Linked DNA regions of Homo sapiens: region 2 is linked to region 1. Evidence: fine-mapped expression QTL. A gene starts in region 1. The other region holds a variant in brackets. All regions are shown on one strand. Distances are between the middles of the regions. Region 1 holds the start of PRCP (prolylcarboxypeptidase). Region 2 overlaps PRCP (prolylcarboxypeptidase).

What was found. PIP is the estimated chance that this variant, and not a neighbour inherited with it, causes the effect. A credible set is the group of variants that fine-mapping cannot tell apart.
Region 2: its variant is the best candidate, but not a certain one, in a credible set for the expression of PRCP in blood mononuclear cells (TOPMed, PIP 0.75).

The regions. Positions count from the first base shown.
Region 1 is chr11:82,897,052-82,902,316 of GRCh38, forward strand. PRCP (prolylcarboxypeptidase) reads right to left here and starts at 3,379. Exons shown (of 9, transcript NM_005040.4): 1 at 3,184-3,379. The coding sequence starts at 3,351. DDIAS (DNA damage induced apoptosis suppressor) reads left to right here and starts at 4,685. Exons shown (of 6, transcript NM_145018.4): 1 at 4,685-4,771. It overlaps LOC124902602, which reads right to left and starts at 5,004. Exons shown (of 2, transcript XM_047427953.1): 1 at 4,997-5,004; 2 at 3,863-4,630. The coding sequence starts at 5,004. The coding sequence ends at 3,973. RefSeq lists enhancers at 3,105-3,154, 3,275-3,334, 3,485-3,584, 3,865-3,914 and silencers at 4,125-4,174, 4,225-4,314.
Region 2 is chr11:82,868,609-82,874,105 of GRCh38, forward strand. The region is part of intron 1 of PRCP (prolylcarboxypeptidase); the gene reads right to left. Among named protein-coding and RNA genes, the nearest start is that of PRCP, 29 kb to the right of the region's middle. The variant A/G (reference allele first, on the strand shown) is at 2,484.

The DNA of each region.
Region 1 (5,265 bases):
TGCAACATTGTAACCACAAGCCACATATTCCAGAGAGCCCTTTATGACACTGATACCACACATACTACACATGTACCCAGAGCCTCGATGTGCCCAAGTGATGTACTATCCTCTCTCTGGTCTCCTAATTCAGTTATTTCAGGTAAAAGAAATCAAATAGTCCTACCTAACTCAATATTTGAAGACCTTGAAAAAGGAGGAAAAAATAATTAGTAAAGAATTAAAGTAAAAGATAAAAAGAAAAATAAAAAATGATTTGTGACAATTAAATGATGGTAGCCTTTGCTTTGTTTAGGTTCTTTTTGAATAATCATGCATTCACTCTTTCAACAACTATTTATTTTGTGCTTTATACTTTTTTATAGGCTCTTCTAGGTATTGTAGAGTACTAACGAGCTGGAGGGACACATACAATATAGTAAATGTGCAGGATGAAAAAAGACCAACTAAATTTCCTTAAAGAAGTCAAAGATTCGCAGAAGAGGTGAGACATTTCTGCTGGAATAGAATTATGAGTTTAAATAGTGGGGAAGAGGGATGGTATTCCAGACAGAATTTCTGACACAGTAAAAGTCACTTGAGTCTGTTAGGTTGCTAAAAGTGGGAGCTGGGATGGGGAATTATGGCAGAATATAAAGTTGGAACGACCAGCTAGGGTTACATAGTAAGGAACAATGGATTCCCATGCCAAGGTGTTTGGCCTTTATCCTGCAATCAGAGTTATGAAGAATTTCTAAGCAGGGGAGGGATAAGACCATGGGCTAAGCCTTCTTAGAGACCACTCCATAAAACCACATCCTTTATATACATAGAAGGACAGCTGGGTCCAGCTTGGTCACTGGGGCAGATATAACCACAGGTAAATCATTATAAAGTTTAATAAAAATTAAACCTTGAATAAAAAACTAAGCCTTACAGTTTTAATAATAAGTTTATTACTAGAAGGCATCAAAGTATTTCATGTGCTCTAACTTAAAAACTTAAAGTTGAGTTCACACATAGTCCTAACTAAAAATCAATGGTTCAGAAATTGGCAACTAGTATAATTATAATTATGCAATAAATACATATGTAAAAGTTTTCCTCAGAAAATGAAATAAAACTCAATTGGAATAGACAGAAGAAAAATTATTATTATGGTAATAAATACATACGTGGAATCTGTATCCTAAAATATAAATTAAATATAAGCCAGTGGACAAAATGTGGCTGAGTAAAGCTGGACTTTGCATATCATCAAAAATGGAAAAAGAAACAGTGTTGAATTATATTTCTAAGGAGTGTAGTGGCCAAGAAAAGAATCTACAATAAAGGAACATAAATTAGGAACTAAGGTACTAACAACTCATTTGTTCCCTTCCTCTTTTCTGCTGATAGTTCTCTTTTTCATCAATCCCAATGGGATTTTAGAGATCTCCCAATCCAATAGTCCTCCCCACCGTTTTACTTTAGCAGTTGAGTTCTGCAAATAGTTGTATATAAAATCCCAGCATATAAAACAGGTAAAAGCTGAAAGAGATCCAAGAGAGGGTACTAGAGCACCTAATTTGGCCTCCACTTCAGCCTTCATCCACTTTCCCTCTGAAACAGCTCCCCAAAGAGCCCTTAATTTTCCTCAGTAAAGTGTAAAACACATTGGTCCTTGTCCCAACCCTCCTAATTTACAAATGAGGGAATTATGCCCTAGAGAATTAATTTAAGGGAGTTGCCTGAGAAAAAAGATTATTTCCTAGTACCCCTGCTAAAATTAAAATGTTTTCTCTTCCTCATAAACTTGAACTCAAATGTCTGGGTTAAAAATTGTTTCTTGGCTGGGGACACAGTGGCACACGCCTGCAATCCCAGCCCTTTGGGAGGCCAAGACAGGGGCATCGCTTGAGCCCAGGAGTTCAAGACCAGCCTAGGCAAGATGACAAAATCCCATCTCTATTTTTAAAAATAAAAAAATTTTTAAATTATTTCTAAGTTATTCTGGAAGTCTATGACATCCCTCTACCACAAATTCCCATTCCAAATTCACATAAGGGCTGGGCTCAGTGGCTCACACCTGTAATCCCAACACTTTGGGAGGCTGATGCAGAAGGATTATTGAGCCCACAAGTTCAAGACTAGCCTGGGCAACATAGTGAGCCTTGTCTCTGCACAATTAACAACAACAAAATTTCACATAGGTCTATAACCACATATTATATGAGTGCCTACTTGAAGCCAGATACTCTGCTAAGAGTACGTTATCTGCTCTCATTCAACCATCACCACAAACCCCAAGAGATCAAGGAACTAGGCTCACAGAAGTACTGTAACCTGCCCAAGGTCACAGAGCTAGCAGGGTGGAATCCGGTTCTATCTGACTCCTAAAGCCAAGCTTCAGACCCTTGCACTCTTTCTAATCCCAACCTTTTCCAAATCTTTTCCTATTTTTACACAGGCTTTCAGAAATGCTGAACTGTAAGGATTACTTGTCATTTCACAGAGGATGTACTTTTCCATCAAGACCTGTGGGGGAATGCCTCATGCTGCAGCCAAGCACAAAGGCATCAAGCCCAAAAACCTCTAATTTCACGTTACAGACCATAGAAAGGCTAATCCCCACCCCCACCACAAACTCCTACAACTCCTTTTACAAGCATAGGCTACATACATTCAGTCTTATGGGGAATAGGGACTGTCAACAATTCTTAATAATAGGGCTACAAAATCAGCTCTGAGCTGACCCCTTCTGAGAGGCTGGCTTTTAGGATGGATAACTATCCAATATTTTCTAATAGGTAAAGATATTAAAATTTGTATTTAGGGCTGCCTTGGGGCAAAGGATGACTATCACCGCAGACTAGGTACCAGAGCTGGCATTTAATAATTTGAATTTGAGGGAAGGTCAAGGGAGTTCGGATTGGGGCACCCTCTGGGAGCAGAGGGAGTTGAAGTGACTGTCGTGTCCAATTACAGAAAAGCCTGAATCAAGAGTATGCAGCCAAAACTACTACCAAATTATTGGTAATGGGAGGAGAAAATTTAAACAGAACTGGGATTTGGGACCACCTTCTGGAAGATGTTAGCCAAAAACCGAACAGATCCTAGGCATCAAGGGGTGTGAATTTCGAGGTAGGCTCCGTTGCCCGGGCTCTGAGGGTCAGGGTTCCCGGCGGTTGGGCCTGGGACGGCGAAGCCCCCGCTCCCCCTTACCTTCTGTTGGAAGTAGAGAACCGAATAGTTCTTGGCTACAGCCGGGAGGGATGTGGGGTTGGTTGGCAAGTGTAGGCTGCCGAGGGCCCTTAAGGCCGGCCGGAGGGCTATGGTGGCCCAGGGCGCCAGAAAAGACAGAAGCAGGAGCAGGAGGGCTCGGCGGCCCATGGCTCAGGCTGGAGACTGCAGTGCGGGTGGGAGGGCGAAAAGGAGGCCAGCAGAAGCGCACAGGCTAAGCCCTGCCCAGCCTGCAGCTCCGCCCGCCGCAAAACAGCTCCTCCCAGGGGAAACCCAAAGCCAGCCAGCTCCTCAGAGACGCCGCCCAAGCCAGGTCACCACAGCCACTCCGCCCCCATCCCCGAGGACACCGCCTCCACTCCACTTTCCTCTCGTGCCATCTGCTCCTTAGCACTCACCTTCATTGCGGTCACACCCCAAGTCTGCCCTTATCATGCTAGGGCCTCTTCCTAACTCATCGCTGTAGCCCATGCTTTATCTATAGCGCCCCCGAAGCCCACCTGTCCTTCAGGTCACCCAATATCCCTACCATTATCATCACCACCAAACCCTGCCCTGGCCACCGCAATTCCATTGCGACACCTCCTGCCTTCCGCAAATCCTACGTAACGGCAATAACAGCTACCATGACAATTTATTGAAGGTTCACTACAGGCCAGTGTATCACGAGGCAGGGAGGCACACGCATCATCTCCTCTAACTAAATCGTCACAGCAATCTTGTGCGTCGTATATGATTGTTATTCCCATCTACAGATGTGGAAACTGAGGCTCAGAGAGGTGCGGGAACTTGCACTAGATCACTCAGCAGTGAGCGGAGCACGTCGTCGCAGACCGCTGGGTCCAGGTCCAAAGACTGTGCTCCTTGCACCCACCTCCATCTGGAGCCTAACCACTCCCTATGATACTCCGTTCTTGGGTCACCCCAAAACTGTGTTGCTCGCACAACCCATCCATTACACAGGTCGCCCCGGGTCCACATCGCCCCTAAATCCCGCCAGGTCCCGGTCCCTTCTTTCAAATAACGCCCCCTTTCTTCTCCGGCACCCGAAAACCCACTCCGCGCTCCACCCCCCTCCTGCCTCCTGCCACCGCCCCCTTCCTCCCTCCGCCCGTGGGTAGTGCTAGCCCCTAGGACAGCGCCGGGTCTGGCTTCCAAAGCTCCCTCAACCCTCTTCATCCAGCTTCCATTCCCTCTTTCAGTCACCCCGCCAGACCCCAGGGCGCTGCGGCTCACTCCACACTTTCCCGGGAACCCTACGCCCAGGAGGCTCAGCGAAGCTCCAAAACCAATTTTACGGACTGTACTACTGATCCACCTGTCGGGGAGAAAGACTCTACCCGCAGTTTGACGAAAATGGTCGTTTCCAGATGCTTGTAGGATTTCCTCGCTAAGCTCCACCCTCTGCGGCGCCTTCTTCTGATTGGCTCTGAGTAATCAGAGCCAAAGCGTTACTTCCGGCGGAAAAGGACGCGGGAGATTCGATTGGAAGGCTGCCGGCGTGCTACTGAGTTCGGCCGGTCCGAGTCACTGTGCGTCGCCTGGGCCCGTTCCTGGTCTTCTCCCCCAGGTGAGCTGGGTAAAGGGGTTCTCGGGAAGCCGAAGAGCCGGAGACTCCTAAGGAGGCTCTTAACTTCATTATGAATGAGACCCACCCAGAGCCCGGCGCTTGTTTTTTCACAAGTGGTTCTCTGTAAACGGGCAGCCATGAGGGTAACAGAATATAAACGTCAGTTATTTTATTTTAGACTCAGTGCTTTTGCAATCACCTAACGAACGTTTATTGAACACTTACAGTGCCATCGAGCTAGACTCGGAGTGAGCTTTTAGAATCGGAAATAGAGAGGAAAAGGCGCGACTCTTGCTTCTGTAATGTGCAAATACGTATTCAGTGGGCCACTGTGCAGAGTAGTACGTGCTGAAAGGGGATCTTCCAAAATGCTATGATGGCTTAGAAGGAACATATTTTAACTGAGCCATGTGCTTAAACCAGAGCTTGAAAGTTTTCTTCCTTTTCACATCCAGCCAGTCCCTACCAGCCTCTTGAATATCTCAGATCTGTTC
Region 2 (5,497 bases), 28 kb before region 1:
GTACAAAAGAGCATTTCAAGCAAAGGAAGAAAAACATGTGCAAGGCTATGATGAGCTATACAGAATGAGCATAAATTCAGGAACTGTTGTTTTACGGCAAGAGGTTTATGAGGGGAAGACATGGGAGATGAGATTAGACTCACTGGGCTGCCACAATGGCTCACACCTTTAATCCCAGCGCTTTGGGAGGCTGAGGCGGGAGGATCAAATTGAGGCCAGGAGTTCGAGACCAGCCTGCCCAACATGGCAAAACCTCTTCTCTACAAAAATACAAAAAATTAGCCAGGCATGGTGATACACGCCTATAATCTCAGCTACTTGGGAGGCTGAGGCCCGAGAATCACTTGAACCTGGGAGGCAGAGGTTGCGGTAAGCCAAGATCACACCACTGCATTCCCACCTGGGTGACAGAGCAAGACTCTGTCTCAAAAAATAAATAAATAAATAAGGAAAAAGAAAAACCTAGGCCAGGTGCACTGGCTCACACCTGTAATTCCAACACTTCAGGAGGCCAAGGTGGTAGGATCACTTGAGCCCAGGAGTTCAAGACCAGCCTGGGCAACATAGCAAGACCCTGTCTCTACAAAAAATAAAAATATTAGCCGGGTGTGGTGGTACATGCCTATAGTCCTAGCTACTCAGGACGCTGAGATCAGAGGATCCCTTGAGCCCAGAAGTTCAAGGTTACAGTGAACTATGATCATGCCACTGCACTCCAGCCTGGGCGACAGAGTGAGACTCCATCTCAAAAAAAAAAAAAAAGAAGAAGAAAAGAAGAAAAGAAAGAAGGAAGAAAGGAAGGAAGGAAAGAAAGAAAGCGGTATAGAGAGACAGAAGAAAGAGAAGGAAGGGAAGGGAAAGGAGGAAGGAAAGAAGGAAGAGAGGGAGAAAGGGAGGAAAGAAACCTAGCTGAAATCCAAGATTGTTTCTCTAAACCAACAGTGAATGAAAAACATCCACTGGAAATAGACTCAAATAGGCAGGGACTTTTTTCTGTTTTGTCCACTTCTGAGTACACAGTGACTGGAATAAGGCCTGGCATGTAGTAGAAGACCAATGAATATATAGAGAGTAAATGAATGCATGCATGCATCATGGCTCTGCAGTTGGTATAAAAACAAAAATGAGAATGGAAAGCAAAGTTCCCAAGAAGGTCAAGTTTGTGCAGGTTCATTTATTGGGTGGGTCTGTTCCCAGCTTTGGAAGAGTTGCACAACACTGTAGTTGGATGTGCCTTTTGCCCAGTGACAAATCACATGCCTAATGGAGAACCCAAGCCTTAAATCTAAGAGCACCACATAACATTTGGACTGCTGAGGAAGCAGGAAATGCATGCCTTCTGCTGGGTGAAGAAACAGTTCTATATAACTACAAATAATATGGACAGAAGGCCAACATTGCAGGGAGTGCAGGAGAAGGACTAATCAGCATTTTACCAAAGCATATTACCTAAAATATAATTGATCTTGGTGACAAGGTTATAAGTCAAAGTTTTTAAGACTGGAAAGGACTTTAAAGTCATGGCTGTCAGCCAGGACACAATAACTTTACCTGAGAAACAGCTTTCTGTAAAATGTACAACATAGCAGCTCGTTCAGCAGCATACTAGTGTTTGGTGAATCCACATGTGCTGCAAAATGTTGATTTGATCAATGTGTAAAATTTGTGTTTCCAACAACAGAGTTTTAAGAAGGAAGAAACAGGGAAGAGGTATAATACCCTAGGACAAAAAGTAATTGGAGGGAATAGTTGAGACTCTAGGTAAGTGAGGGATATGTGATGCTGCGAGATCCTGGGAAGGAAGGAGGGAATGGGGTCAATAGCACCAACAGAAGGATCTGACTTGGGAACCCCTTCTCCACTGGGAAACAGATGGATGCAAGAGTTATCTTTCTAATTACCGAGGGAGGAAACTAAAAGGATTCTAGTTAAAATGCCTCTCATATAACACCTTAGTTTTTAGTCAATGAAGTAAAGGGACAAAGTAATCTATTAAAAGAGATAGTAAAAGAGAGCCTAGGATGGCAATGATTTAAAGACAGAGGTAAAAGTTCAGCATGGAAGAAAAAACTGATGCCTAGGCCTCCATAAAGCTCCTGAGGTTGGAGACTGAATTGGTATGCACAATAATCTGCCGCTTAGCAGATATTTACAACCCAGGAGCAGGAGCAGAGAAGTTTAATGGTTGGATAAAACTAGGATGAGAATGTCATAAAGGGGTTGTGAGAGGACAGGGGGCAAGAGAATTAAGGTCATTCCTATCTTCATGCAGCCTGAATATGCCCAGAGCTATGAGGTCCTGTCCACCACAGACAAATGCTGCCATAATCTGTTTGCTGATTTGCAAGGTAATCTAAACTATGCTGTATTTATTCTATTTTAAGGAGTAAATAATCTTGCCAGAACTCATATATATGATATATAAGCATTTCAATAATAATCTCATAAAAATAATGTAAGGCTGCATATCATCAAGGCCTTGA[A/G]AGTTTATATTCTTCTGCTTTGTTAAACATAAGATGATGTGTTACTGATTTTCTTCCTTTATAGTCTATTGTTCTAAATGTTTCTCTTTTTTTTTTTTTTTTTTTTTGAAACAGAATCTGACTCTGTCGCCCAGGCTGGAGTGCAGTGGCATGATCTTGGCTCGTGCAAACTTCGTCTCCTGGGTTCAAGCAATTCTCCTGCCTCAGCCTCTGAGTAGCTGCGACTATGGGCGTGCCCCACCATTCCCTGCTACTTTTTGTATTTTTAGTAGAGACGGGGTTTTGCCATGTTGCCCAGGCTGGTCTCGAACTCCTGAACTCAAGTGATCCACCCGCCTTGCCCTCCCAAAGTGCTGGGATTATAGGCATAAGCCATTGCACCTGGACTGTTCTGAATGTTTCTTCTATACATGCAAAATATTCTCCTGACACCACTGTTATAACTACATCACATCTTCTGAGAGATAGAGGCTGGTATCTGCTGGTATAATGTAAAAGGACAAAGACCCCTCAACCTCCAAAAAAGGCAAAAACCACGTTTCTCACGAACAGGAGTTCAGACCTGTGATCTATGTAACTCACAATCCAATCTTGCATACTACCACTCCTCCTGCAAAGAACTGTGATGACCTCATAAATCTTCTGTTCTCCAACTGAGCAACCCCAGTTCTTACTATTTCCCATATAACACTATATTCTAAAGTCCTCCTAACCCTGCTCACACTGGATTAATTAACATTCCCTCTTACAGATGGTGTGCCCAGAGCTGAGTACAATATGTAACGTGGTCTAATAAAGTGCCTTGCTCATCACTGGCCAGGAATAAATAACCGATGAGTGTGCTTATAGACCTTATCCATGGTTTTGCTTTCTGCAGTTTCAGTTACCCATGGTCAACCATGGTCAGAAAATAGGTGAGTACAGTACAACAAGATATTTTGAGAGAGAGAAAGAGACTACGCGTTCACATAATGTGTCATAGTTGTTTATTATTCATTATTGTTGTTAATCTCTTATTGTGCCTAATTTATAAATAAAACTTTATCACAGGTATGTATGTATAGGAAAAAACATACTATATATAGGGTTCAGTACTAACCGACATCTCTGGCATCTACTGGGGGTCTTGAAACGTATCCCCCGCGAAGAAGGGAGGACTACTGTATAGCTCCAATAACACAGCCTACTTTAAATTGAAAGTCATGTAGGTATACTGGGTTGCATAGCATCCCCCCAAAATTTATGTCCTTCCTAGAACCTCAGAATGTGACTTTATTTAGAAATAGGATCATTGCAGATGTCATTAGTTAAGATGAGGGCATGCTGGAGAGGGGTGGGCCCTTAATCCAATATGACTGGTGTTCTTATAAGAAAAGAAGAGACAAAGAGGCACAGAGAGAAGAATGCCATGTTAAGACACAGATGCACAAAAGCAAAATGGCCATGTGACAATGGAAGCAGAGACTGGAGTCAAGCAGCTTCCAGCAAAAGAACGCCAAGGACTGCCAACAGCCAGCAGAAGCTTAGCGAGGGACACAGACCAGACTCTTCCCCGGAGCCCGGACCAGGCTCTCCCCAGGAGTCCCCAAGAAGTAACCAATCCTGCTGACACCCTGACTTTGGACTTCTGGCCTCGGGAAGTGAGAGGATAAACTTCTATTGTTTTAAGCCTCCTAGTTTGTGATACTCTGCAGCCCTAAGAAACTAATACAGAAGGCCTCTCTATGGAGGTGGCAATGGAACCGAAGCCTGAAGGAGCCAGACAAAGAAAGAACTCTAGAAAGAAGAAACAGAAAATACAAAGAGCCAGAGGCCAGAAAGAGTTTAATGTAGAAAGAGAGATAAGATCAGTGGTGAACAAGAGAGAGAATGGTACTGGATGAGGCTTAGCGCTAAGTGGGCTATGATAGGGAGACTGAACTTAATTTAAAGGCAATAGGAAGCCTTCAAGAGTTTTAAAACTTATTCTGATCTGTTTTTTTTTTTTTAAAAAAAAAGAAAGTAAGAAGAATAAGTAGAAGGCTATTGAAAGGTTCACATGGCACATGATTATGAGAACAAGCCAGGCTTCAAGCCAAGGTATGTCTCTCTTAAATTGCTACATATTTAACATATATGACAATGTTTAATCTCCAAAGTCATAATACACCCCAGAAAGATCTCAATGAAGAAGGACTCAATATATGACATCAGCAGTATTCGTTTAACAACAATCAACAAAAGGAAGTCTTTTGAACAGCTGTAGTCACCACTATAGCCCACTTATAACAGATTCTGCAGTGGCCCTGACTGTGGGCATTTTAAACACGAAATGCCCCACTAAATTGGCAAAAGAGTTCCAAGGCCATCAGGCTCCCCCCAGCATTTAATAGAAGTCAGTAAAGCATATTCTATTGCTACCCTTTTCTCCAAAACCTATTCAAGAAATTGATAGAAGGTAATAAAACTAATTGTTCTCAAATGTTTAGGTCCCGTTCCACCCTGGTGAGATAAAAGACATCAGCAGCCACAATCTTCACTGGTTACCTCTGATGAATTAATAAACTACATGTTTAAAAAAGAAAAAGTACATACAAACATAGTATTACAACATAATGCTAAAATACAACTCTTCTTCTTCCATGGAGAATCTTCTGTGAATGATACCATGAGAACCACTGAAACAGAAAACCTACAACCTCTTTTCAGAGACTGCTTTAAAATAAATTTTTTTATCACATTGAAAAATACATGATGTTAAAGCACTCTGGAAAATTAAACTTTACAAAATCCCCACATGAATAGCATCCACCAAAGGAAGCAGCTGAGGAAAGTAATGTCTAAGTTTTTTCCTCCCTGGAAACTCCAACTCAAATTCGCAGTCCTGATTTCACTATAAAATGTCCTCCAGGGACTTTTTATCATTATCTTAAAGATACACTCTACAGACTATTCATTGTTTTGCACATTCATCCGGTCTAAATGATAATGGCGCTGTAAAAAAGATAAAGGAAGGGAAAAGGATATCCTCAGCA